Linked DNA regions of Homo sapiens: region 2 is linked to region 1. The links come from fine-mapping of genetic effects on gene expression. A gene starts in region 1. The other region holds a variant in brackets. All regions are shown on one strand. Distances are between the middles of the regions. Region 1 holds the start of SPTLC1 (serine palmitoyltransferase long chain base subunit 1). Region 2 holds the start of ROR2 (receptor tyrosine kinase like orphan receptor 2).

Region 1 (5,344 bases):
TGGTGAAGTTCACCCCTCAGAGTTGTCTTGCTAAGTAGGGCAAGGAAGCTGCAATATTTATATCCCAGCTACCATCAGTAATCCACACTGGTAAGTACTGCCCAGGAGAAGATACATTCTCAGATACTTCCAACTCTCCAGGAGAGCAGGAAACGTGGGAATGGCAGCCTTCAAGGGGGTCCTCTGAGAAATGCAGGCGTGGCTGCTGGAAGGAAAGCACCCGGGGGAGGAAATGCACGCAAGCACAGGACTGTGAGCAGAGCACTGACACGGACTCCATATCGCCAGCTTATGTGGAAATGTAGCACATAGTGTAGCGGCATCATTATCTGGGGTAATACCTGAGGTTCATTGTCCCACAGCCATGGAAAACTAGGACGCGACACACCACAGTGAGGTTAAGAGCAGAAGTTTAATAGGCAAACGAAAGAGAAGAGCTATCTGTGCAGAGAAAGGGGTCCCAGAGAAAATGGGTTGCCAGTTCTGCGGTGAAACGCACAGGGTTTTATAGATGAGCTTGAGGAAGTGGCGTTTGATTTACGTAGGGAATGAAAGACTGGTTGGACCAGGTGTGCCATTTGCATAGTGCATGAAGAAGCTGGCCTTCCCACCCTAATATTTTATTCTGCAGATGGCTTCTCTACCTGACTGATGCCATGTTGCCTGTTCCTTCACTGTACACGTGGTGACAAAGAAAATGGAAGATGGAGTCTCCATATTGAACATACCTGGCTTCCAGGTAGTCTTTTTCTATCGGCACAACTGCCAGCATTCTCCCGTGCACTGCCAGCTTGCTTATCTATGTTTGTAGCTCAATTTTTCAGGCTGCTCTTTGCAAAAAAGAAATAATTTTGGGGTTGCTTTTTGTTCAGAAAGAAGCTCTGCTGAGGACTCTCTTACCTTCACTATCTGCCTAAATAATTTCTTTTTGGCTCCTGTATCAATAGCACTGGTACCATTTCAGAATTCTGGGGAAAGTCAGGGTTACTCAAATAAATGGCACTCAAAAAATTGTTATTCCTTTAGAAAAAAACATAATTAAGTCCCTTAACTCTCATTATCCAAAAATATAGTTTCCAGAGTAAAGAGCTAATTGCAAATAACAACAAACTGCTGCAAGAATGGTTGGAAACCATAGATGTGGTGAAGAAGGCCTTTCTAAGCAATATGCAGATCCAGAGGCAAAAAACAGACTGAAGCACTACATAAAATTTAAAATTAAAGTATGATGAAAGAGCAGAAACAACTAGGCGGCAACTGAGCAAAAATATTTTTCACATATGAAACAGAAAAATATAAGATATTCAGAATGTATAGAGTTCCTACAAATCCATAAGAAGGCAAAAATAACCAATAGAAAAATGGATTAAGAATATGAATTGGCGATTCATACAGTCTATAAATGCCAATAAACATATAAGAAGCTGCACAACCTCATGAGTAACCAGAAGCATCAATAATAAAGGATAGTGAGGTATCATTTTATCTCCATTAAACTGGCAAATTTTTTTAAAAGATTGATAATATCCATCATGGACTAGAGCATAGAAAAACTTCCAAATTATTTTAATTGGTTGAGCCATTTTGGCAGTACTTATCAAAATTAATAACGTGCATAGTCTTCAGATATATCCCATGTTGAAAAAACTGGTCAGAAAAACTCCAACATGCACAGAAAGATATACACACAAGGAACATCGACAGTTATGGCAGCATTATTTGTAATAGGGGAAAGGTGGGAACAACATAAGTATTCACCAATAGGGAAACGTTTACATAAAATGGAACGATGAATATACATAAATTATTCCATGGAAGTCTTCAGCCATTAAATATGAGATATATTAGGAAAAAAATGCTAGAAAAAAAATTTAAAAAAAGTTGTAGAAAAGTCTTGTCCCTATGATCTCAATTATATTTAAGAAATCCAATCCAATTAAGTATGTGCGCGTGCATACTGTTTGCATATGCATTGGAAGGCTCTAAAAGGTTCTTTACCAAACTGCTATATGATTTAATACCTGCAAAGCCTTGGCCTATGTCTGACAAAACAGGAAGTGCTATATGGGTTGGCTATTTTTGTGTATAATTATGCATTTCTTAATGATAATGCATTGCTGGATTACTTATGCTACTAAACGTAAACGTATTGGCCAGGCGCGGTGGCTCACGCCTCTAATCCCAGCACTTTGGGAGGCCGAGGCAGGCGGATCACCTGAGGTCAGGAGTTTGAGACCAGCCTGACCAACATGGAGAAACCCCGTCTCTACTAAAAATACAAAATTAGCCAGGCGTGGTAGCCCACGCCTGTAATCCCGGCTACTCGGGAGGCTGGGGCAGGAGAATCGCTTGAACCCGGGAGGCGGAGGTTGCGGTGAACCGAGATCACGCCATTGCACTACAGCCTGGGCAACAAAAGCGAAACTCCGTCTCAAAAAAAAAAAAATAAAGTAAACGTATTGCAATCATTTTAACTCTCTGCGCCCAGCTGATGACCAAGTGTAAGGCCCGTTCATTACTACTTTCTCCATCCTGAATCCAGCAGGGAGGGTAATAGGACACAAGGTAAACAATTCTTGGAAAAACTGCGGCATCCCACCTGACCCCGTCCAGCCTCCTGTCAACCAGTGCGCAAGTGCGAGTAGGCGGTGCCCAGCGCTCCGCCGCCCCGCCCTCTGCGGAGGTGATAACGACACTGAGCAGCGACGCGCACTTTTGGGACGCGCTTGTGACCCGCCTTCCGGAAGGAAGCGGCTAACTATGGCGACCGCCACGGAGCAGTGGGTTCTGGTGGAGATGGTACAGGCGCTTTACGAGGTGGGCTCCGCGCCATTAGCGGTCCGCGACCACACCCGGGCCCGGGGAGGGTGGGAGGACGCGTGTGGATTTGTGGCCTGAGACCTCGGCGGGACTGGCTCGGTCACGCCCAGACTCGGTGCCTCTTGCTGGAAGGACTGCCGGGAGCTTCTAGTCCCAGCGGTTGAGTGTAGGGAGGAACGGGCGGGGGCGGGGGCTGGGACTGAGGGTCTCGGTTTGAATTCTTATGCTCCGGGTCCCCTGGAAGCTCCGGAAAGGAACACGTGTAAGGGGACGCAGGAGACAGGTCTGCAAAAACCAGAGTTTAGACGGACGATAAAACGGAGTGGTGAAAATGAGTGGAACACCTTCGTCTGGGAAGGTCCTAAGGAAGTCAGCTCTTTGGAACTACGGTACAGTTCGTTGGGGAATAAAATTGTAATAAATTGGAGTTTGTTTTTGTCGAAAAGAAATCAAGTGACTTAGGATTTGTGAATAAAAAATAGTTTGTCATTCTTCTGCGTACATCAGTTTTCTGTCTTATAAAGATACAACTAGTTTAGTCGATTTTTATTTATTTATTTTTGTTTTTTTTTTTTGAGACGGTGTTTCGCACTTGTTGCTCAAGCTGGAGTGCAAGGGCGTGATCTCGGCTCACTACAACCTCCGCCTCCCGGGTTTAAGCGATTCTCCTGCCTCAGCTTCCCAGGTAGCTGAGATTACAGGCATGTGCCACCATGCCCGGCCAATTTTGTATTTTTATTAGAGACGGGGTTTCTGCATGTTGGTCAGGCTGGTCTCGAACTCCCGACCTCAGGTGATCCGCCCGCCTTGGCCTCCCAAAGTGCTGGGATTATAGGCTTGAGCCACTGCACCTGGCCGTAGACTTTTAAAGGAAGAATAGTTAAGAGTTTTTTGAAGCCTAGTTATTTCAGATACATAAGATAATAAGAAACCAGAATGTCAATCTTAGTGTTCATTCATTTAATAACTGAGAGTCCCCGTGCTGTCTTGCAGAGCTATTCATTGGGCACTGAAGAACTTATTTTATTTTATTTTATTTTTTAAAGACAGGGTTTCACTCTGTCGCCCAGGCTAGAGTGCAGTGGTGCGATCAGCTCACTGCTGCGTTGACCTCCCAGACTCAAGCGATCCTCCCACCTCAGACTCCCGAGTAGCTGGGACCACATACCACCATGCCCAACTAATCTTTTTTTTTTTTTAATAGAGACGGGGGCTTGCTGTGTTGCCCAGCCTGGCCTCGAACTCCTGGCCTCAAGTAATCCTCCTGCTTTGGCCTCCCAAAGTGCTGGGATTACAGGCATGAGCTACCACACCCAGCTGCAACTGAATTTTTAATTTAACTTAAATAGCCACGTGTAACTTAGTGACTGTCCACATTGGACCACACAGATCTAGATGCTAGGGATAGTGCGGTGAACAAATAGGCAGAAGTCCCTGTGCTTAAAGAGCTTACATTCATTTCAAGTGAATTTCACTTTACTTTTGATGATTTAATATCACCAAACTTAATATCACCGTCTACTGGTAGGGGTAATGACAGTGTCTTCCATTGCAGGACATACTGGGAATTTTATCTTGAAACAGCAGAGACAGCAGATGTGGCTCTGTCTTATGCTCATGTATTAAGTGATGCCCAGTATTAGGTTAACTGTAGTGACCTAAAATGAGCCACTAAAATTGAATGATCTTTTTTATAAATGATTTTTTAAAGAAATGGATTATTTTCTGTTAAATGTTGTTTGCTCCCTTTTTGAAGACTGACAGTAGTGTAACTTCTCATTCCCCGAAACTGTCCAACAGTGAGACTTGGGAGAACTCCTGTATGTAACATTTCCTGGGAAGGAAAAGAAGTGGTGTTTGTGATTTTTATTAATTCACTAGAGAGAGAGTTTCTCAGCTTTTCTTAGGGTGATTTCTTTTTGGAGTGGGCTCTTAACTAGTGGCTGGGGCAGATGTTTGCTTGCTAGAATCCAACTATTGAGAAAACTAAAAGGGTATTTAGACTTATTCATAAATGAATTGTATTTAGGGGGATGAGCAAATTTTAAAATTCATCATAAACTTCTTACTCCCAAATCCTATGCGTGTTGAATGTAGAATTTGAGTAGTCTTGTATAGTGTACCCAAAAAAGAACCACTGAAATTAAATAATCCGATGGTTAATATTGGGATTCTGTGTTAGATTTTATTTATTTATTTATTTGAGACGGAGTTTTGCTCCTGTTGCCCAGGCTGGAGTGCAGTGGTGTGATCTCGGCTCACCACAACCTCCACCTCCTGGGTTCAAGCGATTCTCCTGCCTCAGCCTCCCAAGTAGCTGGGATTACAGGTATGCGCCACCAGACCCAGCTAATTTTGTATTTTTAATAGAGACAGGGTTTCTCCATGTTGGTCAGGCTGGTCTCAAACTCCCGCCCTCAGGTGATCTGCCCACCTTGGCCTCCCAAAGTGCTGGGATTACAAGTATGAGCCACCACGCCTGGCCTAGATTTTATTTTTTTAATTTTAATTTTTATTCCCAAAG
Region 2 (5,376 bases), 170 kb after region 1:
GATGAAATGGTTCTGGAGCCACATGCTCACGCTGTGTGAAGTGGAAAGCAAAGGTGCTGGGACCACCTTCTCCGAGCTGCACAGCACCACGGAAAGGACACAGCATTGCTGAGGGAGGGGTTTTCCAGGGCAGGTTCAAGACCCTTCTCTGCAGCCCCTGTTGGGTTTTCCCTAGATCCAGAAGAGAGGGGTGTGGAACTAAGTGCTTCAGCACCTACTCTTAAAACATTACTCTAAAAGCATCCTTAAGGATTCTAAGGGAAGCTAAAGGGAGGAAAACCCCAAAGATAAACCCCTGGCAGTCCTCTAACCACTGGGGAGAGCAGCCCCCCCGTTCAGACCCGCACCAGCCTGGGCAGAGGAACAGCCTGAGCCCGTCTAAGAAGTTTGGTAATAATTTTGCCATCCAGTTGAGGAGGGGCTAGGATCTTCTCCCATTCTCCTACTGGATTTACAGCAGCTCCTGGGAATGAGAACTGCGTGAGATATTTCCCTACACAAATTGGGTAGAGATAGCCGGACGCCTAAATACTTTTAACAGAGGTAACAAGCTAGAGCTGGCTTAGTCATTTTGTCCGCAGACCATAGCAAGAGAGTTTTTATTTCTGGCCACGTCTGAGGCCTCACGTCTGGCACCCAAGGCCAGGGCTCTCCCTAATGCCCTCCAATTAACAGAGCTTGGTACTCCAGCAAAAACACCAAACAAACTGCTGGATAATCAGTTAAAAGATCAATCTCATGGAACAAGCAACTGAGATGCTGGAGAATCCAATTCCTTCCTCTAAGAGGAAAAACAAAGACATTTGCATGTGCTGAGCAAAACCAAGAATAAGCAAGAAAACATGCTATTTGAATTCCGTTCAAAATGTCTCTAATAAGTGAAGCAAATTCTGCACATTCTGGGCCTCTGCAGAGAACAAATAGTGTTCTGCCTTTAATGGGTAAAATTATACAATTTGCTTTTAACAGTAAACCAAAAGCCGCGGTGGCTTCGGATAGCATCGCGCTCCCGAGGGCTCCCTCCACGCAGCTCGACCCCTGGCAGTTTTGAGCATTTCGGGGGACGCGCTTGTCCCCACCGACCTGGGAGGGCGCCGGTGCCAAGGCGGCCTGTTTGTTTTCCTGAACATTTCCTTTTGCAACTTTCGCTTCTCCTCTTCCTGCCTCACCGCTGGTGTCTGGGGCTGGGTGGCTCTCAGATTTGTCCCGGTGCGCAGTGCAGCCTGGAGTTACTGATTTGTGACCTAGATCCCCGGGTGTGTCGCCCCCGAAAGTCGGGGGCACCCGCTCTGGGCGCCTCTCCTGCGTGGGCAGACCCGCCGAACTCCGGCTGACGCCCCCAAGGCGCCACCTTTGTGTTCAAGCGTTCCGAGGCGCAGGCCCGAGGGCGGGCGCAGGAGGCAGGTCCGGGGCCCCAGCTGCAGCCCCAGCTCCTTGGGTCCCGCCCGCCGCCCGCGCGTTCCCCCGGCAGGGGGCGCCGGCGCAAGCCTCGCTCTGCCCATCGGGGCGGGCGAGCGGGGACCCTGCCTCCTGCGCGCTCGCCCGCGGTCCGCCCCCCGCGCTCGTCCTGGCGGCCGGCGGGACGCCCCAGCCCGCGCCAAGGAACCTCCCCAGCCAGCCCTTGCCGTGGCCGGAGCCGAGCGGCGCATCCGGGCCGGAGAAGAGGACGACGACGAGGTCCTCGAAGTGGACCCGTTTGCGAAGCGCCAGGGAGAAGGAGGAGCGGACGCATCGTAGAAAGGGGTGGTGGCGCCCGACCCCGCGCCCCGGCCCGAAGCTCTGAGGGCTTCCCGGCCCCCACTGCCTGCGGCATGGCCCGGGGCTCGGCGCTCCCGCGGCGGCCGCTGCTGTGCATCCCGGCCGTCTGGGCGGCCGCCGCGCTTCTGCTCTCAGTGTCCCGGACTTCAGGTAGGATCTGGCGTTCCGGCTTGTGCGCAGACGGTAGCTCACGGCTCGCTTGGCCAGCCCTTCCGCCGCCACTATGCTCCCGGCCGCTGCGCCGGCGCCCATGCTCCTGAACGAGGGGCGCCAGGCAGGGCCATTCGCATCTCGCCCGACGCCGCTCCCGGCCCGCACCCCGGACCCCCTCGGGCTGGTTACAATAAGCCGCGCTCTGGGGACGCCTAAGTGTTTCCAGAGTCTGGGGGCGGGCGGCGGCGGCTGGGAGCCTCTCGGTGGCGCTTCCCGAGGGTCGCGAGTGGGAGTGCGAGTGTGAATGTGAGTACCCGCCCTGGGCCCGGGACCCGAGTCCGCAGATGTGCCCCGAGGGTCCCAGGACCCGGGCTTCCTCCCCGAGGTCTTCCTCCTTCAAGGGCACACGGCCCCGAGTGTCCCCCGTCTGTCTCGGAGCGTCCCCCCACCCCCAGGGCGGCCTGATGCCTGGCAGAATCCTGGGGTGGACGTGGCCCCGGAGAAGCGGCTCTTGCGGCGGGGGTGGGGGCGCCGGCGGCTCCCGGGTCCTGACTTTCCCAGCCCGCGGGCCGCTTGATGGAAACGGGCTCTTTGGCATCCCTTTTGTTGGTCCCTGAAACCTCCTCTCCCCCACCGCTCTGGGGTGGCCGAAGTGGTGTGTGATCTGGATTGAAATGGTTTGTGACTGGGATCGCGGGTCCCTGAGCGGCTGGGGCGCGGCCGCCTTCTGGCCGCGCCGGGGGGACCCCCGGGACCTGTAGGAGGCTGGCGGCGGGAGGGGCGGGGCCCGGCTCCTAGGTGGGTTTCCTCCCGGGGCCCCACTTCCCCCGAGTCCCTGCGCGGTTTCGGCTGCTTGGATCCGGGGCGCAGAGGAACGGCGGGGAGGTTCGGAAGTGCAGCTTGGGACCTGCCTAGGTTGCCTGGAGGAGGCGGCGTTAGCTCTGGCGGTGCAGACTCCGGGAGCACCTCCCGCCCGCGCGCCTCGGGCCGGATTCTCGGCACCCTGCGGGGGTGGAGGAGGGCGGGCGGGGCCTTCAGGCCCAGGAGCGCCAGAGACCTATGGGGTTCGCCTGAAGCCCCCGGAATGTGTGAGACACTTCTTACTAGTAAATGGGCTTCAGTATCCCCC[A/C]TCCCTGCACTCCTGCAGGAAGGTGAGAATCGGGACAGTCGCAGGCTGGGAGACGCTCTGCTTTTCCTGCGTCCTGCTGGGAGCTGCGCGCTCCAGGTATCCTGGCCTGCCGCCCTAGCCGGCCCAAGGTACGCGAGTCAGAAAGGCTGCACAGTCTTTCCTGGGGGGGGGTTTTAGTTTAAGCAGATGTTGATTACGTCAGACATTCCTAATTACTTGATTTGGGAAGGGAGCTTGCGTTTATCTCACTGTGCATTAAAGCATAAACCGCTCAGAGTGCACAATAAAATAAGTAGACCACATTCTAAGTTGGTATCCATCACTCAAGACCTCTGTCGATTTCTGCAACCCCTCCCCCAAGAATCTCCCAGGAGATCCCTTTGCTGGGGGAGAGGGGTGGCGGGGAGGCGGCTTAAACACGTTGCTGGACGTGCTGTTGGGCGGCTTTTGCTGTTCACCCTGCGGTTAATTGTCCTACAAAAACTCTGCCTTGCAGACCATGAGGGTTGAGCGCAGCCTTTGAGGGGCGGTGCTGTGGTGGGGGTTTTTAGATGGGTGATGAGGAAAGCATGATGGGTCCATTGCTTAAGCCAAGGTGGTTGTAACAGGAAAGTTCCTTGAGTTTTGGGTGAAGGAATTTAAACACTCATAGTTTCCAGTGAATGTACAAATGTCTTATATGAACAAAGCAATTGGAGTCGTTTTCTTTAATTTTTGAACCCTGTTCTTTTTCTAGTGAAATACTCATAATCTTTATAGGAGAGGGCATAGGATATAATTCTCTTCGTTCTGTATGGCTAGGTTAACAAAATCCAAAGAGTATGATAATTTTTATTCAAAATAATAATAAAATTATATGATTACAGGAGATTTGAGTGTTTGGGATCTTTTCTGCTGTGAAAAGAGGAGTCCCTGTTATTTGAGTGTGTTTTATCCACGAAATAATTTATTATGTAAAACTATTTAGGGGTTTTTCTAAAAGGATTTGTAAGTTCTTATTCCACATTTTAATAGCAAGACTCTGTTTCCTCTGATGACAAATACTGATTTGGGACTATATACCAATCCTAGGTAGGGTAGGTGGGGAACGATGGAGCATTAGGGTCCCCCCAGCCCCCATTTTTGGCAGTGTAGTGTTTACTTTTGGCCCAGATCCCTGGAGTGATGGTGGTAATAAATAATGATAGTGATCCGTCTAGAAGAAATCCATCTAGAAGAAAATAAATGGAAACATCTTGAATAAGAAGACTTTGTGGAAAAAGAAAAGTTTTTATGTATATAGTAAGGCAACATATTTTTCTTATTACGGCTGTGTACCAAGCACAGAGCTACACATTTGAAATTTTTCAGTATAATTGTGAGATCCTGCTTAACTCTCATGTCCACTTCATAAAGCATGTCACCCTGAAAATCTGATCGCCGTGGACCCTATGTGACACTCAGTGTAACTGAGAGGGCTCTGGAAAGCCAAGCTGAACTTTTAATTAGTAAAGCAAATCATGGAAAACTGACAAGTCTGCTTTATATTTTATATGTAAAAAAGCAACATGGGTTTTTTAAAATGTGCGTTTTCCAGGGGTAGTTTTTGGTGACTGCTCTGCAGATTTTTAAGGCAATGTTAAACAACATTTTTATTTTTATTGTGAAACCTTTTTTTTATTGTTTATTCAAAGTGCTGCTGTAATTGGTGTTTGTATGTCTCTCTCTTAAGTGTGGTTTGCAGTGAATCACTTGTTGCCCCTTAAACAGTTAGCCTGGATTTAACCTCCAAGAGATTAAGTCTGGCAGAGTCTGAATTTTACACTGCTCTTTTCTTTGGAAGCTCTTCTGAAATCAGTGGAATAGAAATACAGGGGTACGAACAGCTCATCTGACAGGTAGGGAAGATTAATCCCCTTTAGAAAGGTTTCAGCTGGTGGACTGGCACTCCTTTAAAATGCATTCCCTGAGAGGCCAGGATGGGAAAAGTTATTAGTGAAATGGGAACTGGATGTGAAGGACTTGAGCTCCCTAATCTGCAGGACCTGGCTAGTCTGTTGTAGTGCTGGAAATTTGTGTACTCTTTGTAATCCTTTCCCTTGGAGAGTTCTAATTATATAATTCCACATTGTAGTCAGGGAAAAGAAAGTTAACGCTACAAACTGTTACTCCTTCCCAGGGTTTATAACCATCTTCTAAAATGGTTCCTTGATGACAGGCCTTTCCTTTTGGTGTTTATCTGGTTCATTCCCTGGGAACCTGGAGGGGACACTGTGAAGGACTCCCTCCTCCTCCTCTTCCACACCCCATCAGCGTCTTGTGGTTTCCACGTGGTGAAGGGCTGGGCAGCCCAATTT

What was found.
Region 2: its variant is fine-mapped to the expression of SPTLC1 in visceral fat (GTEx, PIP above 0.99). The same link has a PIP of 0.9 or more in whole blood.

Annotation. Positions count from the first base shown.
Region 1 is chr9:92,112,787-92,118,130 of GRCh38, reverse strand. SPTLC1 (serine palmitoyltransferase long chain base subunit 1) reads left to right here and starts at 2,718. Exons shown (of 15, transcript NM_006415.4): 1 at 2,718-2,817. The coding sequence starts at 2,761. RefSeq lists an enhancer at 2,156-2,215.
Region 2 is chr9:91,946,399-91,951,774 of GRCh38, reverse strand. It overlaps ROR2 (receptor tyrosine kinase like orphan receptor 2), which reads left to right and starts at 1,547. Exons shown (of 9, transcript NM_004560.4): 1 at 1,547-1,908. The coding sequence starts at 1,812. RefSeq lists silencers at 974-1,268, 1,382-1,561 and enhancers at 1,755-2,254, 2,255-2,756. The variant A/C (reference allele first, on the strand shown) is at 3,041.